Homo sapiens: one gene and its partners. The protein of the gene in region 1 purifies or fractionates together with the protein of each later gene. This does not show direct contact. Each region holds a gene or a part of one and is shown in the gene's direction. Other genes may lie near its edges. The genes, in order: GIP, SEL1L3, TOR3A, IDUA, UXS1, ORC4 and EOGT.

Region 1 (4,089 bases):
ACCAAAGCCATAGGCCACTGTCCAGAGCTGGGATTCAGATGACTGTGGACCTACTCTCTCCCACCCAGAAGTAGCCTGTTGCCTTGTGGGAGTGTCCCCCTGCCAGTTAGTGCCACCCTACCCCAAGTCTGTCTTCACTACAAGTACCCTTTTTTATTTTTATTTTTATTTTTTGAGACAGAGTCTTGTTTTGTCACCCAGGCTGGAGTGCAGTGGCACGATCTTGGCTCACTACAACCTCTGCCTCCAGGTCTGGGTTCAAGCGATTCTCCTGCCTCAGCCTCCCAAGTAGCTGGGACTACAGGCACGTGCCACCATGCCTGGCTAATTTTTGTTTGTTTTTTTTTTTTTTGTTTGTTTGTTTGTTTTGAGATGGAGTCTCGCTCCGTCGCCCAGGCTGGCAGGCAGTGGCGCCATCTCGGCTCACTGCAACCTCCGCCTGCCGGGTTCACGCCATTCTCCTGCCTCAGCCTCCCGAGTAGCTGGGACTACAGGCACCTGCCAACATGCCCGGCTAATTTTTTGTGTTTTTAGTACAGACGGGGTTTCACTGTGTTAGCCAGGATGGTCTCGATCTCGTGACCTCGTGATCCACCCGCCTCGGCCTCCCAAAGTGCTGGGATTACAGGCGTGAGTCACTGCGCCCGGCCCCCTTTCTTTTTTCTTTTCTTTTTTTCTTTTTTGAGAGAGTCTCTCTTTGTTGCCCATGCTGGAGTGCAGTGAACTCGATCTTGGCTCACTGTAACTTCTGCCTCCCAGGTTCAAGTGATTCTCTTGCCTCAACCTCCCAAGTAGCTGGGATTACAGCCGTGCACGACCATGCCCAGCTAATTTTTGTATTTTTAGTAGAGACTGGGTTTCACCATGTTGGCCAGGCTGGTCTCGAACCCCTGACCTCAGGTGATCCGCCCGTGTCGTCCTCCCAAGCGCTGGGATTACAGACGTGATTCATCGCGCCTGGCCTACAAGTATCCCTTCTAACTGAGGGCAACTGTAAAGGAAGTAGGGCATAGAAGAATAGTAGTGGGCCCTGTGCCCAGAAGGGAGGAGGAGGAAGAAAAAAGGGGGTACTTAGGGTACCCTACCCACAGGCAGGCCCCAGACAGCAGCTGGAGATAGCCAAATGTTAATCACCAATTAGCACAGTTCAGGTGGAAAGGGCAACTCTATTATGTGTAAAATGGACTTAATGTGGCAGGAGCTGTGGGCTTAATTTCTTGAGATAAGATGCTTTTAGGCTAATCAGCAGGTCTATGCCTAATATAAAGGAGCTGGGGCATGATTTCTTCAGCAGGCTCAGAAGGTCCAGAAATCAGGGGAAGGAGACCCCTATCTGTCCTTCTTCTGGAAGAGCTGGAAAGGAAGTCTGGTAAGAGAAGTGGAGACAGGGATGGATGAGATGACCCGAGAGCAGATGGATCTTGGCAACCCTGAGATGCTCAGCAGCCCTGGCATCTTAGTTTTCTCTTCCTCTATATGAGATGTGAGAAGATAGTCAGGTGCGGTGCCTCATGCCTGTAATCCCAATACTTTGGGAGCCGAGGTAGGAGGATCATTTGAGCACAGGAGTTCAAGACCAGCCTGGGCAATGGAGGGAAACTCGATCTCTACACATAATTTAAAAAATTAGCTGGGCATGGTGGTACATGCCTGCGGTTCTAGGTACTCGGGAGGGTGAAGTGAAAGGTTTGCCTGAGCCCAGGAGGTCGAGGCTGCAGTGAGCCACGATTGTGTCACTGCACTCCAACCCGGGTGACAGAGCGAAACCCTGTCTCAAAAAAAGAGAAAGAGAAATGAGAAGGTAGCGCTGATGTTTCCTTTATTTATTTATTTAGAGATGGAGTCTCGCTCTGTCACCCAGGCTGGAGTGCACTGGCGCAATCTCGGCTCACTGCAACCTCTTCCTCCCAGGTTCAAGCGATTCTCATGCCTCAGCCTCCTGAATAGCTGGGATCACAGGCGCGCACCACCACACCTGGCTAATCTTTGTCTTTTATGTAGAGACAGGATTTCACCATATTGGCCAGGCTGGTCTCAAACTCCTGACCTCAAGTGATCCGCCCACCTGGGCCTCCCAAAGTGCTGGGATTGCAGGCATGAGCCACTGCACCCAGCCTGGTCCATCTTTTGGTAAGATTCCATGTCCCTTCTAGTCACTAACTCCAGTGCACAGCACCCCTCATCTTCCCCCATGGTGTTGCCCCAGGCTCTTAGAAAAGGTCCAAACTGGCAAGGCGCGATGGCTCACGCCTGTTATCCCAGCACTTTGGGAGGCCCAGGTGGGCAGATCACAAGGTCAGGAGTTCGAGACCAGCCTGGCCAATATGGTGAAACCCTGTCTCTACTAAAAATACAAAAATTAGCCGGGAGTGGTGGCACATGCCTGTAGTCCAGGCTACTCGAGAGGCTGAGGCAGAAGAATGGCTTGAACCCAGGAGGTGGAGGTTGCAGTGAGCCAAGATTGTGCCACTGCACTCCCACCTGGACGACAGAGCGAGACTCCATCTCAAAAAAAAAAAAAAAAAAGAAAAAGGAAAAGAAAGGGTCCAAACCTCAGGGCTTTGCCCCTCTCCAGCTTTCAGAACCCCTACTGGTTGCTCTCTCAACATGTCCTGGCTTTTTTCTGTCTTAGCTCAGGAAATAACCTTGGAAGATGGTGGCCACGAAGACCTTTGCTCTGCTGCTGCTGTCCCTGTTCCTGGCAGTGGGACTAGGAGAGAAGAAAGAGGGTCACTTCAGGTAGGAGTGGTGAGAGGAAAGGGATGGGGCAGAGGAGGGGTTAGGGGATGACAGGTTCTGGATTTGTTTCTAGGGGGAGATGAGAAAGGGAAGGAATCCAGGCTAAGAGGTAGGAAGCTCCAGGGAAATACCTGCCGGCAGCGTGAGTGCAAAGTGAGCACTGAGCCAGAGAGGATTTATTGTGTGCTGCTGTTACAGTGGGAGAGACTATGGTTAGATCTCTGGCGGGACTTCCTGGTGGTTAATTGTCCGAAGATGACAGAATCTCCCTTCCCAATAAATGTTTTATTCATTTATGCATGTTTGCTTCTTTCTTTTCTTTTTTTCTTTTTTCTTTTTTTGAGACAGGATCTTGCCCTGTCGCCCAGGCTGGAGTGCAGTGGCGTGATCGCAGCTCACTGCAGCCTCTGCCTGCCAGGCTCAAGCATCTTCCCATCTCAGCCTCCCGAGCAGCTAGGACCACAGGCATGTACCACCACGCTCGGCTAGTTTTTGAATTTTTTGTAGAGATGAGGTTTCGCCATGTTACCCAGGCTTATGAATGCATTCTTTTTTTTTTCTATTCTTTTCTTTTTCTTTTTTTTTGGGGGGGGATGGAGTCTCGCTCTGTCACCTAGGCTGGAGTGTGGTGGCACAATCTCGGCTCACTACAACCTCTGCCTCCTGGGTTCAAGCAATTTTCCCTGCCTCAGCTTACCGAGTAGCTGGGATTACAGGTGCCCACCACCACACCCGGCTAATTTTTGTACTTTTAGTAGAGATGGGGTTTCACTATGTTGGTCAGGCTGGTCTCGAACTCCTGACCTTAGATGATCCATCCACCTTGGCCTCCCAAAGCGCTGGGATTGAAGGCATGTAATCCCTGTGCCTGGCCCTTTTTTTTTTTTTTTTAATTGGAGTCTCACTTTCTCACCCAGGCTGGAGTGCACTGGCGCGATCTTGGCTCACTGCAACCTCCGCCTCCCGGGTTCAAGCAATTCTCTGCTTTAGCCTCCCAAGCAGCTGGGATTACAGGCACCTGCCACCACGCCCGGCTAACTTTTGTATTTTTAGTAGAGATGGGGTTTCACCATCTTGGCCATGCTGGTCTTGAACTCCTGACCTCGTGATCCACCTGCTTGGACCTCCCAAAGTGCTAGGATTACAGGCGTGAGCCACTGCGCCTGGCCTGTATCATGTAGATGTTAAGAACATAGATCTGAGCCCAGATGGCCTGGGGTAAATCCTGGATCTGTTACCTATACGGAGTGGCAGATAATAAGACAATAATAAGGTAATCTCTGCACCTTGGTTTCTCCATTCACAAAATGGGGATATAAATAGAACCTACCTCATAGGATGTTGTGAGGA
Region 2 (3,500 bases), on another chromosome or scaffold:
CCATTGCCTCTCACATAGGAAATATTTTGAAACATATTTTTTAGTACCTTGAAATGAAATTCATGATAATTAACCCATCTACACACATTTTTAAAAATCAATATAGGGCCCTAACAGCAATATAAAGGGGAAATAAAAAGAAACTAATTGTAATAAAATAATATTGATTTCAATAAGTACATTCTAGCCCAGTGCTTATAAATTTTAATGTGCATATGAATCATCCAGCATTCTTATTAAATGCAGATTCTAGTTCAGTAGATTTTGGTTCAGTAGGTAAGCCCTGAGATTTGGCATTTCTAGCAAGCTCCTAGATGATGCCCACACTGCTGTTTAGTAAGAGCATACTTTGAGTAGTAAGGGCCGAAAAGTATAAAAAAAAAGAAAAAGAAAAAAACTCCACACATTTCCAAAATGTGCCCCGACAGTGGTACCTGCCAGCCCTGTTAGAACTAATGTTAAGAGTTGAAATATGGGACGGGTATGGTGGTTCACTCCTGTAATCCCAGCTACTTGGGAAGCCAAGGCATGAGAATCGCTTGAACCCCGGAGACGGAGGTTGCAGTGAGCTGAAATTGCACCACCACGCTCCAGCCTGGGCAACAGAGTGAGACCCTGTGTCAAAAAAAAAAAAAAAGTTGTCAATAATTTTTATATTTATTTATTTATTTATTTTATATATTTTTGAGATTGACTTTCGCTCTTGTTGCCCAGGCTGGAGTGCAATGGTGCAATCTCAGCTCGCCACAACCTCCACCTCCTGGGTTCAAGTGATTCTTCTGCCTCAGCCTCCCGAGTAGCTGGGAATACAGGCATGCGCCACCACGCCTGGCTAATTTTGTGTTTTTAGTAGAGACAGGGTTTCTCTGTGTTGGTCAGGCTGGTCTCGAACTCCTGACCTCAGGTGATCCACCCACCTCAGCCTCCCAAAGTGCTGGGATTACAGGTGTGAGCCACTGCAACTGACCTTATTTATTTATTTATTTATTTATTTATTTATTTATGTTGAGACGGAGTCTCACTGTCGCCCAGGCTGGAGTACAGTGGTACAATCTCAGCTCACTGCAACCTCCATCTCTCGGATTCAAGTGATTCTCCTGCCTCAGCCTCCTGAGTAGCTGGAATTACAGGTGCACGCCACCACCCCCAGCTGATTTTTGTACTTTTAGTAGAGATGGGCTTTCGCCATGTTGGCCAGGCTGGTCTTGAACTCCTGACCTCAAGGGATCTACCTGCCTTGGACTCCCAAAGTGCTGGGACTACAGGCATAAGCCACTGTGCCTGGCCTATCAATAATTTTTAAGTAGGAAGTTACTCCAGCAGTACAGTGAAGCTGATGGGATGATGGGGCAGGGAAATCGAGGCATGGAGGAGGTGAGGAGAAGCTGCTGCAAAGGCGATGCTGCTCAGAGACCAAGTTTCTACCATTTGGTGTCTCCCCAGTGAGCTGGTGCACAAGGTCCTGAGACCTGCCCCACAGCTGGGGGAAGACAGGGATGGGTGCATGTAGCAGCCATGGCGTTGTGAAACAAACTTAATAATGAACTCTGGGTGCTGACTGACTGTAAAAAAGAGGAAATGTATTTGAGAGTTAGGAGCCTCCCGTCAGCAGCTTTGGGTGAGGATTGTTGCTATAAGTTAGAGAGCTTTGTCATTTTGTGATTTGCATTTTTTCCAGTCAGTTGTATTTAAAAATTAATGATTTATAGTCAAGACTTGCAGTTGAGCTGTCCATCCATTTTGCGTTCAGCTCCAACTACCTTCATTTTCCTCCTGAGTTTATATGCTCTGTGATATATAGTTGACACATCATGGCATTTGCCACATTAAATTGTCCTGCATTCAGAAGGCTAGCCGCGCAGGACGGTGGTTAACAGCATCGGTGTGGGAGGCACACTGCTAAGATTCTGGCCCTGCCAGTAGCTAGCTATGTGACCTTGGGCAAAGGAAGGAGCCTATCTGTGCCTCAGTTCCCTCTTCCGTAAATAGCAGAAATAGTAGTACATCCACTGCCTGTTGTAGTTGAGATAACCAAATGAGGTAACACAATGTAAAGTGTTTAAAACTCCACAAATGGGCTGGGCGCAGTGGCTCACGCCTAGCACTTTGGGAGGCCAAGGCAGGCAGATCACCTAAGATCAGGAGTTTTAGACCAATCTGACCAACATGGTGAAACCCCATCTCTACTAAAAATACAAAAATTAGCGGGGCATGGTGGTGCATGCCTGTAATTCCAGCTGCTTGGGAGGCTGAGGCAGGAGAATCACCTGAAGCTGGGAGGCAGAGGCTGCAGAGAGCCCAGATTGCTCCATTGCACTCCTGCCTGGGCAACAAGAGTGAAACTCTGTCTCAAAAACAAAACAAAACCACAAATGTTAGCTGGTAGTTCTCAAGGAGTATGTCCTCTGGGGCACTGGACCTGTAATTAAAGCATGCTGACACTAGGTAATACCCACACATAAATAGCTTGATTTACCTCAGAAACAGACATAATGACCAAAGCCTAGTATGTTTTTCTTTGCTGTTAGGACTCTTTCTAAAACATTCAACTTTTTTTTTTTTTTTTTTTTCGGAGATGGAGTCTCACCCTATTGCCCAGGCTGGAGTGCAGTGGCGCTATCTCGGCTCACTGCAACCACCGCCTCCGGGGTTCATGCCATTCTCCTGCCTCAGCCTCCTGAGTAGCTGGGACTACAGGCACCTGCCACCACACCAAGCTAATTTTTGTATTTTTAGTAGAGACTGGGTTTCACCATGTTGGCTGTGCTGGTCTTGAACTCCTGACCTCAAGTGATCCGCCCGACTCAGCCTCCCAAAGTATTGGGATTACAGGCGTTAGCCACCGCACCTTGCCCATTCAACTATTTTTTTTTTTTTTTTGAGATGGAGTCTTACTCTGTCGCCCAAGCTGGAGTGCAGTAGCATGATCTCGGCTCACTGCAACCTCCGCCTCCCGGGTTCAAGCGATTCTCCTGCCTCAGCCTCCTGAGTAGCTGAGATTACAGATGCACGCCACCACACCCAGCTAAATTTTGTATTTTTAGTAGAGACAGGGTTTCACCATGTTGGTTAGGCTGGTCTCCAATTCATGTCCTCGTGATCTGCCTGCCTTGGCCTCCCAAAGTGCTGGGATTACAGGCGTGAGCCACCGTGCCCAGCCCATTCAACTATTTTTTAAAGCATTTCAACAAAAACATTGACTGATCAATAAAAAATACCAAGATAGCTCAATTGATACTTTCAATAGATTAGTCAATGTCTTGATCTTCATCATATATACTTATATATATAAAGAATATATACTTATATATAAAGAACATATATTTATTTATATATATAAAGAATACATATAAATATATGTATTCTTTCCTTCAAGGGAACTTGTGTTTGACTCCTGGCTCGCATTCCACCAGGCAGCTCAGTCTTTCTTGCTGCTTATACCTCCCACGGTGGTGGAAAGGTCCCTGGGTCTGGGTGGTCCTAGGGTCACTCAGATAGTC
Region 3 (2,214 bases), on another chromosome or scaffold:
GAATGTGTGTTTATGAAGCAGACAGGGTACTTGGGAACACAGAGGGCAGACTATAATCATCTCACATTGTCAACCCTGGGTGGGCACAAGAAAAGTGGTAAGAAAGCCTGAGCTCCTTTTCTGGGAATGCTTGGAAATAGTAGTTTGCACTGGCCCCAAGAACAGGCGCAGTGGTCTCTGAAGCCTGAGACTCTGAGTCTCACTGCAAGACTTTACCTAAAGGAGACACAGCTGTAGAGTTCTTGACATACGCTGCAGACAGCACTCCTGGAGTTGAGAGATGAGATCCAACCTCACCCAGCCCCTTCAGTCGGGGCCAGGTGTGGTGGCTCACACCTGTAATCCCAACACTTTGGGAGGCTGAGGCGGGCGGATCACTTGAGTCCAGGAGATCTAGACCAGTCTGGCCAACATAGTGAAACCCCGTCTCTAGAAAAAAAACAAAAATTAGCCAGGTGTGGTGCTGTACGCCTGTGGTCCCAGTTACTCACAGGCTGAGATGGGAGGATCCCTTGAACCTAGGAGGTGGAGGCTGCAAGGAGCCCAGATCTCACCACTGCACTCCAGCCTGGTTGACAGAGCAAGCCCCTGTTTCAAAGAAACCAACAGCAACCCCCACCCCCGCTAAATTCCAGCTAGGTTCAGTCCTAGGTCAGACTCCATGTAACTTTGGTCTTGCTTTCAGACAATGGCTTTGGCCACAGCCGTCTTGTGAAGGAAAACCTGATTGACTACTTCATCCCCTTCCTGCCTTTGGAGTACCGTCACGTGAGGCTGTGTGCACGGGATGCCTTCCTGAGCCAGGAGCTCCTGTATAAAGAAGAGACACTGGATGAAATAGCCCAGATGATGGTGTATGTCCCCAAGGAGGAACAACTCTTTTCTTCCCAGGGCTGCAAGTCTATTTCCCAGAGGATTAACTACTTCCTGTCATGAAGGCTAGAGGAAGACTTCCTGGAACTGCCTTTCTTCCACTAACAGGACCCTGGGACCTGTAGGAGCACCCCGTTTGGGACTGTGAGGTGTTTGAGGGTGTGGACTGGCATCCAGCAGCCACTAACAAACACACAACTGGTGTGTAAAAGGCAGGCCTTACATTAGAAGCCAAGCCAATCCTTTTTCTTTTTTTTGGAGGTCCCACCGAGATAGATAGGAACTTGGATTGCTGAATTCAAAAACAGAGCCCATTCTTAAGATCACTTGGTGCCTTAAAGACACGCATTCCAAAGTGGAATGTGGTTGAAGAAAGTGGGCCAGGTGGTTGAAGAAAGCCATGTGGGAGCTCAGCAAATCCCAAGGGCTTATTATGACACTCCAGATGGTCTCCTTAGCATCTCAGCTCTTCTGCAAGGAAGAGCTTGGGTGTTAGGCCTCAGAGGCTGTAGGGTCCTTGGGTTACAGAGCCGGGGAGAACGAAGTTCTGTGACCCAGGGGTGGAGAATACACTCTAGGTTTGCAGGCTGGTGGGCTTTCAAATTGGTACTTCCAGAGGAAAGCCAAGCTGCTTCTGTTGTGAGCGAATCAGCCAAGAGCCTGAGGCTGAAGGGAAAAGTACACAGAGGAAGATATTTTACAAACCAGGTCAGTGTAGGCCAAGACTTATGGTCTACAGATTTTGGCGGGGGAGGGGGGACCTTTTCAAAGACAATAGGGGGTCTTGACATGTTTGTTGTATGTAAAGATGATAAGATTAAAATTTTTGATTTTCCTAAAATCCTTGGCGTACTTTCTGTTTCTGAGACCTAGCAAAATTTCAAACAAACACTGGGTAATCCTGATAAGGCCTGGCAGAGACAGGGCAGATGCTGGCACACACGGAGCTGGCAGGGTATGTGACTGGTCTGCCTGTCTAGTCTGTTTGCTTTGGGACCACATCAGTGAAGCCAAGTCATGCCAACCTCCTACTGAAGAGACTCCCATAGCACATTGCTCTTATATATGAAAATGTTCACTCCTGTACTCTCAGCTATAAAAAGAAAAGCAGTCATTCTGAGGATTAAATGGCACCGTGTAGACATGTAGCACTGTGCCTAGACACAGTGTTCATTATGTGCCTTTCCCCTTTTCTTGGTTCTTCTCCCATGCCTCTGGAATAACACAGGTCTTTTTTCCCTATGTTTTTTATATATTAATTATACACACATATAGAGTCAGGGTGTCACTATGTTGCCCAGGCTGGTCTGGAACTCCTGGGCTCAAGCTATCTTCCTGCCT
Region 4 (4,131 bases), on another chromosome or scaffold:
AATTTGGAATATATACACACTATTTCACTTTTAAATGGCTAATCACTTTTAATGCAATTTCAACATAAGAAGACCTAATGTTAAGCAATATTTTAACCCCTCTCCCCAAAATAAAAAGACCCAGAACACTGTAACTCTAATTATCCTTCTCCCAACTTAGAGAGGATTATTGTCCAGTATTTTCGTTTTGTTAGTAGACTGTTCTTTTTTTCTTTTCTTTTTTTAGAGATGGGGTCTCATTTTGTCAACCAGGCTGGAATGTAGTGGTGTGATCATGGCCCGTCTCAGCCTTGAACTCCTAAGCTCAAGCAATCTCCCACCTCAATTTCGTGGGTAGCTGGGCCTCACAGGCATATACCATCGCATCTGGCTAAATTTTTTTTTTGTACAGATGGGGTCTTGGTACATCTCCCAGGCCGATTTCAAACTCCAGGCCTCAAGTGATCCTCCCGTGTTGGCCTGCAATTCCAAAGTGCTGGGATTGCAGGTGTGAGCCACCGCACCAAGCCTGTTCTTTCCATTATTATTTTTATACAATGTTTGCTTGGATTCACACATGCATACATGGACTACACATGTACTACAGTTGTCCCATGGTATCCTCGGGGTATTGGTTCCAGGACCCTCCCAGATACCAAAATTTGCAGGTGCTCAAGTACTTGATATAAAATGGCACAGTATTTGCACATTACCTACGCACATCCTACTGTGTAGTTTAAATCAAGATTACTTATAGTCCCTAAAACAATGTAAATGCTCTGTAAATAGCTGTTATACTGTATTGTTTTAAAATATGTATTATTTCGTATTGCTTTGGCTTTAAAACAATATTTTCAGTCTGCTTGGTTGAATCCATGGATCTGAAGCCAAGTGTAAGGAGGGCCCAGTGTGCTCTTCTGGGGTAATTCTCCTTCCTGCTAAAGCGCACGCTTTACTCAGGAGGCTGGGGTGAGAAAATCGCTGAAGCCCCGGAGATGGAGGTTGCAGTGAGCTGAGATCGCGCCACTGCACCTCAGCCTGGGCGACAAAGCAAGACTCTGTCTCAAAAACACACAAAAACAGAGAAAAACAAGACAGTAATGGCTCAACTCACATAGCACCAACGGGCGAAGCGTTCTTCTGAGCGCTTTCCGAGTCATCGGTCCTCAGAGCAGCCCCTGAGGCCCGCAAGGAAGCGGGGCTCCAAGCCCTGCCGTGCTCCCGGCTCCCCGAGGCTCCCCGAGGCCACCCAACCCCTCCCACCCGGCCATCGCCCCCTCACCAAGGCCCCGCCCCGCGGCGGCGGTCACATGGGGTGCGCGCCCAGACTCCGACCCGGAGGCGGAACCGGCAGTGCAGCCCGAAGCCCCGCAGTCCCCGAGCACGCGTGGCCATGCGTCCCCTGCGCCCCCGCGCCGCGCTGCTGGCGCTCCTGGCCTCGCTCCTGGCCGCGCCCCCGGTGGCCCCGGCCGAGGCCCCGCACCTGGTGCATGTGGACGCGGCCCGCGCGCTGTGGCCCCTGCGGCGCTTCTGGAGGAGCACAGGCTTCTGGTGAGCGCTCCGCGGCCTCCGGGACCCCCTGGCCGCACGGGGAGAGCTCGGGCGCCCCCTGACTGCGCACTGTGAGAGCTTCAGAGACCGGAGCTCCCTCCTCTGGGGCCCTGGCTCTCCCGGGCCCGCCCCCCGCCGTGTTTGTGGGTGGGTCCTCCACCTGAGTGGGCGCCGGGGCGTGAGCCTGGGCCGCCCCCTGCAGCCCAGGCCGATGCCCGGGATCCTGCTCTTTGAGGTAAACCAGGAGTCTCCCCTGGGAGTGGACGGCCCTGCAGCGGGACCTGGCCTGCCTGTCCCATTCCTTCCACCTAGAGCTGAGGTACCCGCCTTCCTGGCAGGGCCAGGGCCAGGGCTGGCGTTGGCCCCTCGTCTTACTGCTGCTGCCGTTCCCCATGAAGATGGGACCTCCCCACATTCCTGGCCCTAAGGGTCATTTTATTAGTCACTGAACGCACGGGCAGCGCCTGGATCCTGCGCCCGGGCAGTCCTGGGCTTGAACGTGTGTGTCAGCCGCGCTGCCAGCCATGCTGAGGCTCGGGACTGAGCCGCCCCTTTGTTGTCCCCAGCCCCCCGCTGCCACACAGCCAGGCTGACCAGTACGTCCTCAGCTGGGACCAGCAGCTCAACCTCGCCTATGTGGGCGCCGTCCCTCACCGCGGCATCAAGCAGGTCCGGACCCACTGGCTGCTGGAGCTTGTCACCACCAGGTGGGCGGCGGGCAGGGTCTGGGCGTCCCAGAGCCCCTTACAGAGGCACAGATGGGAGGGGAGGGCTGGGGGCTGCTCGGAAGACCCCTTGTTCCCCCACCTCCCGCCGAAGCACCCTGTTGGGGAGAGCGTGTCCTTGCTGGCTGTGCTGGGGTGAGGGCTGTGTGCTGGAGGGAGCCCCTGCATGGGGCACGGTGGGCTTCCTGCAGGTCTCCCTGCAGGCTCAGGGTTGGCTGCGCCGCACCTGGCTCCTGGTGCACCCGTGAGCATCCCTGTGTGTGTCTGCTGGCCAGGCTGGGTAGGGCCACTGCACCTGAGGGCTGAGCTGAGGTCTCATCGGTCACAGCACCCTGGGCCCTGACGCTGGTGCAGGTGGCCACCCTGTGAGGGGGAGGCACGAGGTGTGAGGGGCACTTGGGTGTGTGGGGCCTTCTGGAAACACAGAGACCCTCGTGCACTTGGCCAGAGCCGCTGGCTCCTACCAGCAGGGTGGGCACCGGGCAGGCCTGGGCATAGGGAGTCCTCTTGGCACCTTGGAGGCTGCATGATGGCGGGGGACCCTTGTTCAAATAAGATGTCAACCCTGAGCGTCAGGTCAGGCCCATCCCTCCTGAGCTGAGGGACGGTGCATTGGGGCCCAGCCAGCACTGTGGGCCAGCCTGTCTCGGAGGCAGAGGTTCTTGATTTCTGAGTGTTTGGGTCCTGCGTGTGATCAGAGGGCCTCCTTTCCCAGTTGGGGTTCCCCGGTTTCCCCAGGGCAGCTGTGGCACAAGAGTGCAGCTCTTGGGTGGCTCCTCCCTGGGAAGGGTCTCAGCAGTGGCTTGCAGACGTCTGCTGTGGGTCCCCAGGAGGGAGCAGAGGCTGCTGGGCAGGCCTGGCCCTGCTACAGATGGGCATCGGTGGCCTCCAGCTCCCTGTGGCGGGCTCGTGCTGTCTGCACGGCATCGTGCACACTGAGGAACAGCTGCTCCTCCTCAGCCGTGTCCCCGGGGCCCTCCCCGAGGAAGCCTCCTCTGCTCAGAATGTCTCTCACAGGCGGGCTGCAGCAGGCTAGCAGCAGGCTGATGCCCAGGGCCCCGTAGTCTCGGCGCAGGTCCTGCAGCGTGCTCACACCGGCTGCGTCTAGGAACAGCAGCGGGGCGCAGTCGATGACCACTGTGTGGAAGCCGGCCGCTGCGGGCACCAGCGCAGCCCTGGTGCTAACCGGGCCCAGGTCCTCGCCCTGGGCAGGGCCTCCCTCACCGACCCCCGTCTCTGAGCCCCCCTCCTTCCTCCTGGCAGCCATGCACCCTGCGTCCAGCCCCGTGAGGCTGTAGAGTGACTGCAGGAAGAAGTCCTTGTTGGCATAGTACAGCGGCCCCCCAAAGCGGAACACCCGCACGCCGGGCTCAGGGACGAGGCCCTCGAACTCTGTGGCATCCTCGTAGAAGGCCGTGTCCCCGATGCGGGCCAGCAGGGCGGTGCGTGGGCGTTGGGTGCGGCCGGCCAGGCTGAGCAGCGAGAGGATGACGCCAGCCAGCAGCCCGGCCTCTGTGCTGACCAGCATACAGGTGGCCGCGGTGCCTGCCCAGACCAGCGCGTCAGCCGGGCTCATCCGCCACAGCCGCGGGAGGTCCCACACCTTGCGCAGGGCCCCCCGCAGGCTGACCACGATGACGCAGGCCAGCACGCTTCGCTGTAGGTCGTGGAACAGCGGTGCCAGCGCCAGCAGCACCAGCAGCACCACGGTGGCGCTGACCACGCTGGACAGCTGTGTCCGGCAGCCAGTGGCTGTCTTCACCAGGCTCTTGGCCAGGGCGGCGCTGGTGGCGAAGCAGTGGAGGAAGGCGGGTAGCACGTTGCAGCAGCCCACAGCCAGCAGCTCCTGGTTGGCACGCACAGAGTAGCCGTGACT
Region 5 (3,500 bases), on another chromosome or scaffold:
TTTCTCTCCGAAGCCCAGGATGACCCACAGAAAAGAAAACCAGACATCAAAAAAGCAAAGCTGATGCTGGGGTGGGAGCCCGTGGTAAGTGCAGGGAGTTAATGCTGCCTTGTGGGGAGGGGCCTCCCGTGTCCTGTGTCTGCTGTCCTGTAGGCACTGACCCTTGTCAGACAGCCCCCGGAGGAGCAAGGTGGGCTCGGCATCCAGGCAGATAGAGGGTTTTCTCCAAGTGGTAAACAGCCTCTCCTGTATCAGGAGTCTCAGAGAATGTTACCTGGGAAGCGGCTGGAAGCCCCTGCTCTGGGCTCTGTTTTCGTAAAATCTCTCATGCACACACACATTCTTACATTCTCTCATACACATACACTGCCATACAAACACTTGTACACACATATACTCACACTGTCTCCCACACACTCACACTGTCATATATACACTGTCATACAAACACACTTAATACAAGTATACTCACACACACTCATTTTCACACATACATATACATTCACACTATCATACACATTCTCACATTCACTCACATGCGCACACTCACTGATCCACACTCACATTCACACATACACTCCCTCTCCCACATACATACACACACACACACACACACACCCCTGACTGTGAACGCTGTGCCAAGGGCGCTGGCAGCACACGCTCAGAGCCCTGCGTAGCCCCAGTTGCCTGCCTATTGAGTGTGCGGGGCCAGGTCAGGGGCAAGTGGTCCCCATCAGCCCCGCAGTGGAGCCCCTGGTTGGAAGCGTGCGAGACTGAAGGGTGTGGAGGAAGGGGAACTGCATGCCTTCCTGTTGTCTTCAGTGTGTCTACTGAAGGGGGCAGGGTGGGGCGGCTGCTGCCTCCCTGGGGCTGAGCCTGAACCCCGCCTGCTTCTGCTCTGCCGCCTGCTGTGCCCTTCCTGCCTTGGGTGACTGCAGGCTCCTCCCCGCCAGAGAACGCTCGTCCTCAGGGCTGCCTGTGTCCTTCAGAGACCACCTGTGTAGGGAGGTTGGCTGGGTTGGCCCCATCTATAGAAGCAAGCCCACCTCATTTACTGTCACCTCTGCCTGGCTGTTCCCTCTTTGCCCACCCTCATGTGCCCCACTGAAATTCGGGCTCCCCTCGGGCAGAGGCGTGTAGTGTAGCCCTGTGTCCAGCAGGAGCCCGGCACCTGTCAGACCTGACACACACTGGGTGCTCAACAAATGTAGGAGCATCTTGGCATGGCCCTTGGGTTGTGGCGCAGTCAGAGAGTCAGGGACGCAGTTGAGAGCTCAGTTTACCTTTTTAAAATGTGCATAGTCAGAGCTGAGTGAGTAGAATCCTAGAATATTGAACTTCAAAGGGACATGAGAGTTCCAGCCTGATCCTTATTTCATTCTGTCATGTACAAGTCTACGTAATCTGCTAAAAACTGCAGAAATTTGTTGAGTGAAATAAAAATACAATTACACCCAGACTTCACAAAATCGAATAATCCCAAGCTGTGCAAAACAGGTTATAGCAGCCTAGGTTTCTTGTTTTTTTGAAGCTTTGTAAGGGGCCATTGGTCCCTTTGTAAGGAGAGCCTATATTTTTAAACAAAATATTTTTTGAAGATTTAAATATACATTCACTATGTATTAACTATTGCTTTTTATGTGAGGTGTGTGTATGCTCAGTATCTTTATCTTTCTGGAATTTAGACCTATAATATTCTAACATTCTTGGAATGTGAGCCATCTACCACTGGTTTCTCTTCTAGTAGTAGTTTTAATTTATAATAAATTTTTGAGGGATATGATCCAAAGAAACTTACAGGCATTATCCATCTTAATTGTCCCAAGTGTGTGTGTTTAACAGCTTGTTGAGATATAATTGGCAAACTGCACACTGCCCATATTTAGAAGATACAATTTGATAAGTTTTCATCTATTTTGACACCTGTGAAACCATCGCTGCAGTCAAGCTGACAGACCTTCTCCCCCAGTGGTGCCCCAGCACCCCTTAGCAGTGCCTCCCTTCACCTTTTCTCTTTCTGCTGTTAATCAGCAGTTGATCTGGCTGGTTTCCTGTTGGCTGCAAAGCAGCTTCAGATGAAGGTTGCTTTCTGTGGTGTGGGCTGCCGTGGGTCCCCTCTCAGACTCAGCCTCTTAGTATGGTGGGGGTGCAAGTGGGCCATGATCCGCTAGGCAGTGCAAAGGGTTGATGTCACGTGGGAGAATCAGGCGTGTTGATCAGATGCAGATCACCTTCCCAAAGCATCTTCCCGCCACTCCAAGGTGGATTTCTTCTGAAAGAATGGGGCACATGGGCATTATCTGAAAAACAATCTTGCCAGCCGATTCAAACTGGAGTAGACATTATACCAGCAAGAGGTAGTCGGGGTCTTTTGTGAGGTGGAGCTCACTTTACGTCAGTAAGAGTGACACTTGTCAGCTCCACAGTACATTCTGAAAGCGGCCCTGAAGGACTTCTGGCTTCTCTCGGTGGGCCGTGATGCTGGATGCTGTCACAACCAAAGCATGGTTCTGTGAGTGTTCCTCTGAAGGAGGCCTGACTGGCTGCAAGGTGGCACTTCCTTCCTGCAAGGTGGCACTTCCTTCCTGCGATGCCCTTCTGTCAATGTGACCTTGTCTCCCTTTCTTGCTTTCCCTTTAAACAGGTCCCGCTGGAGGAAGGTTTAAACAAAGCAATTCACTACTTCCGTAAAGAACTCGAGTACCAGGCAAATAATCAGTACATCCCCAAACCAAAGCCTGCCAGAATAAAGAAAGGACGGACTCGCCACAGCTGAACTCCTCACTTTTAGGACACAAGACTACCATTGTACACTTGATGGGATGTATTTTTGGCTTTTTTTTGTTGTCGTTTAAAGAAAGACTTTAACAGGTGTCATGAAGAACAAACTGGAATTTCATTCTGAAGCTTGCTTTAATGAAATGGATGTGCCTAAAAGCTCCCCTCAAAAAACTGCAGATTTTGCCTTGCACTTTTTGAATCTCTCTTTTTATGTAAAATAGCGTAGATGCATCTCTGCGTATTTTCAAGTTTTTTTATCTTGCTGTGAGAGCATATGTTGTGACTGTCGTTGACAGTTTTATTTACTGGTTTCTTTGTGAAGCTGAAAAGGAACATTAAGCGGGACAAAAAATGCCGATTTTATTTATGAAAGTGGGTACTTAATAAATGAGTCGTTATACTATGCATAAAGAAAAATCCTAGCAGTATTGTCAGGTGGTGGTGCGCCGGCATTGATTTTAGGGCAGATAAAAGAATTCTGTGTGAGAGCTTTATGTTTCTCTTTTAATTCAGAGTTTTTCCAAGGTCTACTTTTGAGTTGCAAACTTGACTTTGAAATATTCCTGTTGGTCATGATCAAGGATATTTGAAATCACTACTGTGTTTTGCTGCGTATCTGGGGCGGGGGCAGGTTGGGGGGCACAAAGTTAACATATTCTTGGTTAACCATGGTTAAATATGCTATTTTAATAAATTATTGAAACTCACCAGTCATGGAC
Region 6 (3,500 bases), on another chromosome or scaffold:
CACATTTACATGTTCACATCTCCTTTCCTACAACCCTTTTTCTTTTTCAGAAAAGTGAAACTTTTTTCTAATTCATATTTCAACAGTCCTCCTTCCAGTGCTGTTTCTCTATAGAGTGACTGTCATTTGCCCCTCCTTTCCTGTGCTCTAGAGCTTATGATACATGGCTTTAGTATAAACATCCCTCATACATCACTGGCTGGTGCTCCACATATCTTTATTCCTCCTTGCCAAAAGCAGCAGGCGATGACAAGGATCAAAGAAGCATCCTCCTTCTTGCCAAAAAAAAAAAAATCTTCCTTTGGGTGGAAGTGGCTGTGGTGAGTGTTGTTGACCCAATAACGGACCAAATAAAATGCCAGTAACTTCTTAGCAGTGTTATCAGATGTTCTTTTTTATTGTATATATATAATTCTCCAACTGTGTAGTTCTTTCAAGTGTAATTTTTTTTCTTTTTCTTTTTTTTTTTTTTTGAGATGGAGTCTTGCTCTGTCGCCCAGGCTGGAGTACAATGGCATAATCTCGGCTCACTGCAACCTCCACCTTCGGGGTTCAAGCAATTCTCCTGCCTTAGCCTCCCGAGTAGCTGGGATTACAGCCACACACCGCCATGCCTGGCTAATTTTTGTATGTTTAGTAGAGATGGGGTTTCACCATGTTGCCCAGGCTGCTCTCGAACTCCTGACCTCGTGATCTACCCCCCTTGGCCTCCCAAAGTGCTGGGATTACAGGCGTGAGCCACTGCGCCTGGCCTCAAGTATAATTTTATCTGTGTATCCACGTTTATAGGGAGAGAACAAAAGTATAGAGGGAGTAGTGACTTTGCCAGCAAGCATCTTCTTCCCCATTGGGAGTAATTCCATTTTTGTTTTTTGGTTTTGTTTTGTTTTTACTAGTTCCTGTATGCCCACATTGCCAACTTCTGTCATTACTGCCTACTACAAAGACAGTATTTACTTCCATCTCTTTTCATTCCCAAATTTAGGGTCTGAATTGTTGCTTGTATAGATTATTACTTCCACTGTCTACCTATATGGGTGACCTAGAACTCTTTCTTAATAGAAAATAAATGTACAATATCTGAATCTCTGAATATAACCTTTCTTGTCTTTTAGTTCTCATGCTGGCACTATACTTTTCTTTGACCTCATAAAAACATTCAAAATTTTTTATTCACCCTCCCACCTCCTACCTCAGGCTATTAGTCTTTCCTGTCCACCTTCCCAAACTAACCATGATCCCATTTTGATCACTTGAATTCTTTCCTCTATATCATGATTTCTTCACGTAGGTATTATGAGAGTCATCTGGCTAGATGTGGAGATGTATATTTCTGGGCTTAAACTACTCCCCTTTTAAAAATCTTTATAACATTTCAACAATATACATAGGAAAGAATAAATAATGAGCCCTGAATTCCCTTCTCCACTCATTGCCAAGATTCAATTACTACAGACTAATTTTATTTATCCTCAACATCTCCTTTCATTCCTGTATTATTTTGAGGCAAAAACTAGGTATTATATCATTTTATCAGTAAGTATTTTAGAATGTATTTTTAGGAGATAAGAGCTCTTTAAAAATATATTTCCCTAATATAATTGTTATATTAGCTGTAATTCCTTAAAGTCATCAAATATCATGTCACTGTTTTTAAAACAGCTTTATTGAGATGTAATTTATACCATACAACTCACTCATTTAAATTATACAATTAACAGGGTTTTTGTTTATTCATAGAGTTGTGCATTTATCACCACAGTTTAAGAGCCACGTACCTTTTAGTGATCACCCCAAATCCCCTGTTCCCTCCCCAGCCCTATGCAACCACTAATCTGCTAATCCACTTTCTGACTGTTTAGTAATTTTTGAATCATACAACGTATAGTTTTGTGTGACTGGCTTCTTTAACATGTTTTCAGAGTTGATCTGTGTTACAGCATATATCAGCCCTTTATTCCTTTTTATTACCAAATAATATTCTGTTGTGTAGATATACCACACTTTGTTTATCCATTCATCAGTTGATGGACATTTGGGTTGTTTATATTTCTTAAGCTATTAAAAATAATACTGCTGCAAACATTCACATACACTTTTTTTGTGGTTATCTGGTTTCATTTGTCTTGGTTGTATACCTTGGAGTGTAACTTAAGTAATAAATATATATTATACTATACTGTATATATATAGATGTATATATACATATATAATATAAATTATATATATTATATATAATATGCTGTGTACTATAATATATTTTGAAAAATTGCTCAAGTTCATTATTAAAAAGAGATTTAGGAATGACAGTTCCTGCAATATATGTGACTTAGGAAGACAGCTTACCTATTGTGCTTTTGATGTCTTGGATAGTTTGAATGCCTATCAGTTTTGTGGAAGTATTTTCTTCATTTAAGAACACTTCGTATGTCCTTACAAGCAGTACATATTAGTTATCCTTTGGTTTTTAGTGTTCTTTGACAGTAAATTTGATTCCTGATTTCTTTTTAAGGAAAAATAGCACAAATACAAATAGAGTCTAAAAGCATTACTATAAAAAAAAAAAAGCCGGAAGATAACTTACGAATGCCATGTTGCATTTCTGCCACTTTCCTCTCCTAAAGTTGGTTCCTGCTGCCTATCATGCTATTAATTTTTTAATCTCAGTTCTTCATAGAATGTACAGAATTCCTTATTGACACTCTTGGTGTTATTGTGACATATAGCTATTCAATATTGTCAGTTTTTTTAAACAGTCATGTTGGGTCTTGGAATGTTACAGATTAGCTGAGAGTAACATGGTGGGAAAAAGGCATGACATCACCAAGCCAGCAAATGCCTGGAGGTGGATTATTTAGTTTGCATAAAATGTTTTAAATGTTTAATTATGTATTGTAGACTAAACATTACTAATTATAGGTGATAGTTTACTTATACCTCTAACATTGGTACAGTGTTTTTGTTTTTTTAAAAACATTCATCTTCCTTATAGAGATTTCTGTTTGTTTTTAAGGATATTTTGGAACTCTTAGAAAAAAGAGTGAAGTCAAGATTTTCTCACCGGCAGATACACTTAATGAATTCATTTGGTTTTCCACAGTATGTTAAAATATTTAAAGAACAGTTATCTCTACCTGCAGAGTTTCCAGACAAGGTTTTTGCTGAGAAGTGGAATGAAAATGTTCAGGTATCTTAAAAGGCAATAAAGCTAAATGTTCCTTGCTATATGATTTAAAGCAATTAAAACACAAATTTTAGAAATTAGTAAATTAACACAAAGTTTCTAATATTGCTGAAGGATAATGCTGCAGTAATACAAATTATATACTTTTTAAAAATTTTCTTCTTAGACAGTTGAAATGTCATTTCTCCTAAATTCTATCTCAAAAGAACATCACAGTTAAGCTTTAGGATTTATGTTATTAGTTTGAAGTAAACTTTAATGAGGCTTTAGTTTTATCTGTATGTGGTTTATATTTTAGATAATTTTATTTTATATA
Region 7 (3,500 bases), on another chromosome or scaffold:
CCACATTTATCAGATAGTCATATTTTAAGACAGTCGAAATATTTTTAGGTTTAGAATCATTCCCCCAAACATGTGCTAATGAAGAGAAATTGATAAACTGCGTCTTTACAAATTCATTCTCAGATAGTTTGGGACAGATGATATAACACCACCATACTGCTCTATATTTGCCCAGAGCTTTACAGTTTGCAGAAAGCTTTTCTGTGTGTTATCTCGTTTGATGCTTATAAGCGTTATAGCAGATACTACTGATGCCACTTTATCAGTATGGAAAACAGGGTCCTCAGAGGAGTTAAGCAACTTCTCCAAGACTGCACAGCTACCTTTTAAAATTAATTACACATCTAGGATTAAAATGCAGGTTTTTTTCCAGTTTACTTTCAACCATACCATATCGTACCTCAGTGGATCAGATAAACACGTTGTCAAGAGGTGGTTTGGGGTAGTAAATACAAGAGCAGGCTCTCAACTACAATTCAGATCCTGAGTCTTAGACAAGGTACTTAGGCTTTCCTTGTTTCAATTTCCTCTGCCTTAAAGCCATGCCCATTATGTAGCATATGGTAAGGAAGAAATGAGGTTCTGCAGATAAAAATGCTCAGTGCAGCAGGGCCTGGTTCCCGGCCAAGGGCTCAGCATTATTTTTTAAAGGTTGATGAAGTTGTAAGCACTTACGATTAAGGTACACTGTTCAATGATCCTGAACCCTGAGTCTCTGACATCTCAGGGGTCTCCGATCTCCAACCACACTGGAGAACTAAAAAAATTTTTTAATTTACTCACATTCAAAAACTGAGTATATACTTTATAGAGCTATTGGAGGGTGTCACGTAATAGAGCTTTGAGCATTCTAGCAAGGTGAATGAGGCCTCAGGATGTGAGGCATGCCATTAAACTGCACGGCCGCAGGGTGTCTTTAACAGAGTTCTGTTCTGTCTTGCACATTTGGCTCAAGTCTAGCTGTTCACATGGAAAGGGCAAGATAATAATGACAACCCCTATCTTGCACTCCTCTTTCAAGGTGGCTTGTAGAATGTTCTTTTGATTAAGATTTACCTTGATTTGCTTTGTGCTAGCAGAGTATGATCCTTGTCTTAGTTGTTTGGGCTGTTATAACAAAATACCATAGACTGGGTAGCTTCTAAACAATATCATCACATTGGGGGTTAGAATTTCAACATATGAATTTGGCAGAGACACGGACATTCAGTCCATTGCAATATTTTACCAACTACAGACTCCAAAACACCATGCAGGTCAAGATTGAGACTTTGTGTTCATTGGGAGTTTTGGGAAAAACAATTAAAATGGCATTTAAATCTATAAATAAAACCCAGAGCAGATAAAAGTTTTTGAAGTTCTGAGCATAACCCAGATTGGTTGAAATAGAATCAGGCTCTGGTAGCTGACTCTTCGACTCCTTTCTTCAATTATTTAGAAAATATTGCCCTCATGTTGCTGTTGAGACAGAGGCTCCCACAAGCTTTACGGTTTGCAGAAAGCACCTCTTATTAAAACTGGCAAACTTCCCTCCCTGCTTTTAATGTCTCTTACATGTGCATTTTTCCTTGTTTCTTTTGGCTTTTGGAAGCTGCTTTTTCATATAGCTGTGGGGGTAGTAGTACTGGATCTGGGTACTTTTTTTTTCTTTTAAAGGGGACTGAACTGAGCCACATATACAGCTCTTGGCTTTAAAATTTGAGGTGACAGATCGTTGGGGAGTTTTCCATGGTAACTTAAAAGTGGGAAACTGGCAAAAGTATGCTTGGCCAGGGTCTGCTGGGAAGGAGAAAATATCCTTCAGCAGATGCAGTCTTTGGAGAGCTTTCCTTGTCATGTTGTGTGGTTTGAATGTGAGGGTATCCGTGCTGTCAGTGTGTCTAGCAAGTCCGGATGAGTCTTTGCTGTGTTAATACTCAGAGTCATTCTTTTCTTTTGCTCAACCTTCAGAGTGACTCAAGTCTGGTGTGTTCCCGTTATCTTCAGTACTGCAGAGCAACCAATCTCTATCTTGATTTAAGAAACATCAAGAGAAATCATGACAGGTACTTTAGTGGTTAATGTTAACATCTAGTATAAATTCTGAAATATTTTCAGATCCAGGGATTTTTTTTTTTTTTTTTGAGACAGGGTCTTGCTCTGTTGCCCAGGCTGGAGTGCAGCGGTGTAATCATGGCTCAGTGCAGCTGTGACCTCCCAAACCCAAGTGATCCTCCCACTTGAGCCTCTCAAGTAGCTGGGATACAGAAGCGCACCGCCAGGCTTGGCTAATTTTTTAATTTTTGAAGAGATGGGGTCTTCTAACGTTGCCCAGGCGGGTCTCAAACTCCTGAGTTCAGGTGATCCTCTCACCTCAGCCTCCCAAAGTGCTGGGATTATAGGTGTGAGCCACCAAGCCTTGCTGAAGGGGTATATCTTGAATTTGTTTTTGATGATATGGCAGAGGGGTTGGGGAATGGGTGGGGGGATGGATGACTCAGACAGGCCATGAGTTAATCGCATTGCAAAGTTGGGTTGTGGATACATTAGGGTCCTGATAGGATTCTGTTACTTTCATATACACTTGAAATTTTCTATTGTAAATAGTTAAATTCTTTTAAAAAATTCAGTTTGGAAATTGGTAATCCACTTTAGTTACAACCCACGTGCTTGGGTCATGAAGACGTTTTCTGAACTTAACTTAATGTTTTGTTATATACCAGATTTAAGGAGGACTTTTTCCAGAGTGGTGAAATTGGAGGGCACTGTAAACTTGACATCCGTACATTGACGTCTGAAGGTCAGCGCAAAAGCCCTCTGCAGTCATGGTAAGATATTTTTAACGTATCTGTTTCGGAAATATTTGCCTTTATTTACGGCACTTGCAGATATTAATGGAGACTCTCAAATGGAAAATGTTACTTCATTTGTACATAATTTGGCATGAGCTTCTGGGAAGTGACGGAAACCGAGTGAATCCCTCAGTTGCATCTGAATTAAGTATGTGTTTATAATAGTAGATACAGTACTTACTGTTTGCTAATGAAAGAAAAAAATCAGCTTAAAAATCCATTTTTATTAACTCACAATTGCCAAGTTTTATTCACTTACAAAGTCACATAGGTTACTTACATAATGTTAATTTTTGAGGTCAAACGTCCATGCCAAGGCCAGGAATGGTGGCTCATGCCTATAATCTCAGCACTTTGGAAGGCCAAGGTAGAAGTATTACTTGAGCCCAGGAGTTCAAGGCCAGCCTGGGCAATATGATGAGACCTCAAATCTAAAAAATAAAAATGTGTTTTGGGGAACCCATTTAAAAAACAATACACATATATTAAAGTATGTAAAAGCATACAGAAAAAGGTACAGTTTGGATTGTGAAAAAGTGAACCCACCCATGTAACTTTTACCCAGGTCCAAAAATAGAACATTGTCAGCACCTCAGTCTCCCTCCCAGGCTCTACCCCCATCCCCCTCTCCAAAGGTAGATGCTACTCTGACTGTTAACATCATTGGCC

Evidence for each region.
Region 2: the proteins of GIP (region 1) and SEL1L3 purify together in Homo sapiens (affinity purification with mass spectrometry; one large-scale study listed by BioGRID and IntAct). This does not show direct contact.
Region 3: the proteins of GIP (region 1) and TOR3A purify together in Homo sapiens (affinity purification with mass spectrometry; one large-scale study listed by BioGRID and IntAct). This does not show direct contact.
Region 4: the proteins of GIP (region 1) and IDUA purify together in Homo sapiens (affinity purification with mass spectrometry; one large-scale study listed by BioGRID and IntAct). This does not show direct contact.
Region 5: the proteins of GIP (region 1) and UXS1 purify together in Homo sapiens (affinity purification with mass spectrometry; one large-scale study listed by BioGRID and IntAct). This does not show direct contact.
Region 6: the proteins of GIP (region 1) and ORC4 purify together in Homo sapiens (affinity purification with mass spectrometry; one large-scale study listed by BioGRID and IntAct). This does not show direct contact.
Region 7: the proteins of GIP (region 1) and EOGT purify together in Homo sapiens (affinity purification with mass spectrometry; one large-scale study listed by BioGRID and IntAct). This does not show direct contact.

The regions. Positions count from the first base shown.
Region 1 is NC_000017.11:48,965,797-48,969,885, reverse strand, and holds the start of GIP (gastric inhibitory polypeptide preproprotein), read left to right. Parts: upstream 1-1,289; 5' UTR 1,290-1,369; intron 1,370-2,632; 5' UTR 2,633-2,653; coding exon 2,654-2,739; intron 2,740-4,089. UniProt on the Homo sapiens protein: Potent stimulator of insulin secretion and relatively poor inhibitor of gastric acid secretion.
Region 2 is NC_000004.12:25,751,489-25,754,988, reverse strand, and holds part of SEL1L3 (protein sel-1 homolog 3), read left to right. Parts: intron 1-3,500.
Region 3 is NC_000001.11:179,094,283-179,096,496, forward strand, and holds the end of TOR3A (torsin-3A precursor), read left to right. Parts: intron 1-685; coding exon 686-936; 3' UTR 937-1,714; downstream 1,715-2,214.
Region 4 is NC_000004.12:985,713-989,843, forward strand, and holds the start of IDUA (alpha-L-iduronidase isoform a precursor), read left to right. Parts: upstream 1-1,331; 5' UTR 1,332-1,372; coding exon 1,373-1,530; exon of another isoform or gene 1,531-2,096; coding exon 2,097-2,237; exon of another isoform or gene 2,238-3,120; coding exon of another isoform or gene 3,121-4,131. Other genes in the region: SLC26A1 (sulfate anion transporter 1), read right to left, coding at 3,121-4,131.
Region 5 is NC_000002.12:106,093,302-106,096,801, reverse strand, and holds the end of UXS1 (UDP-glucuronic acid decarboxylase 1), read left to right. Parts: coding exon 1-84; intron 85-2,644; coding exon 2,645-2,776; 3' UTR 2,777-3,491; downstream 3,492-3,500. UniProt on the Homo sapiens protein: Catalyzes the NAD-dependent decarboxylation of UDP-glucuronic acid to UDP-xylose. Necessary for the biosynthesis of the core tetrasaccharide in glycosaminoglycan biosynthesis.
Region 6 is NC_000002.12:147,947,738-147,951,237, reverse strand, and holds part of ORC4 (origin recognition complex subunit 4), read left to right. Parts: intron 1-3,013; coding exon 3,014-3,187; intron 3,188-3,500. UniProt on the Homo sapiens protein: Component of the origin recognition complex (ORC) that binds origins of replication. DNA-binding is ATP-dependent. The specific DNA sequences that define origins of replication have not been identified yet.
Region 7 is NC_000003.12:69,003,685-69,007,184, reverse strand, and holds part of EOGT (EGF domain-specific O-linked N-acetylglucosamine transferase isoform a precursor), read left to right. Parts: intron 1-1,950; coding exon 1,951-2,045; intron 2,046-2,702; coding exon 2,703-2,807; intron 2,808-3,500.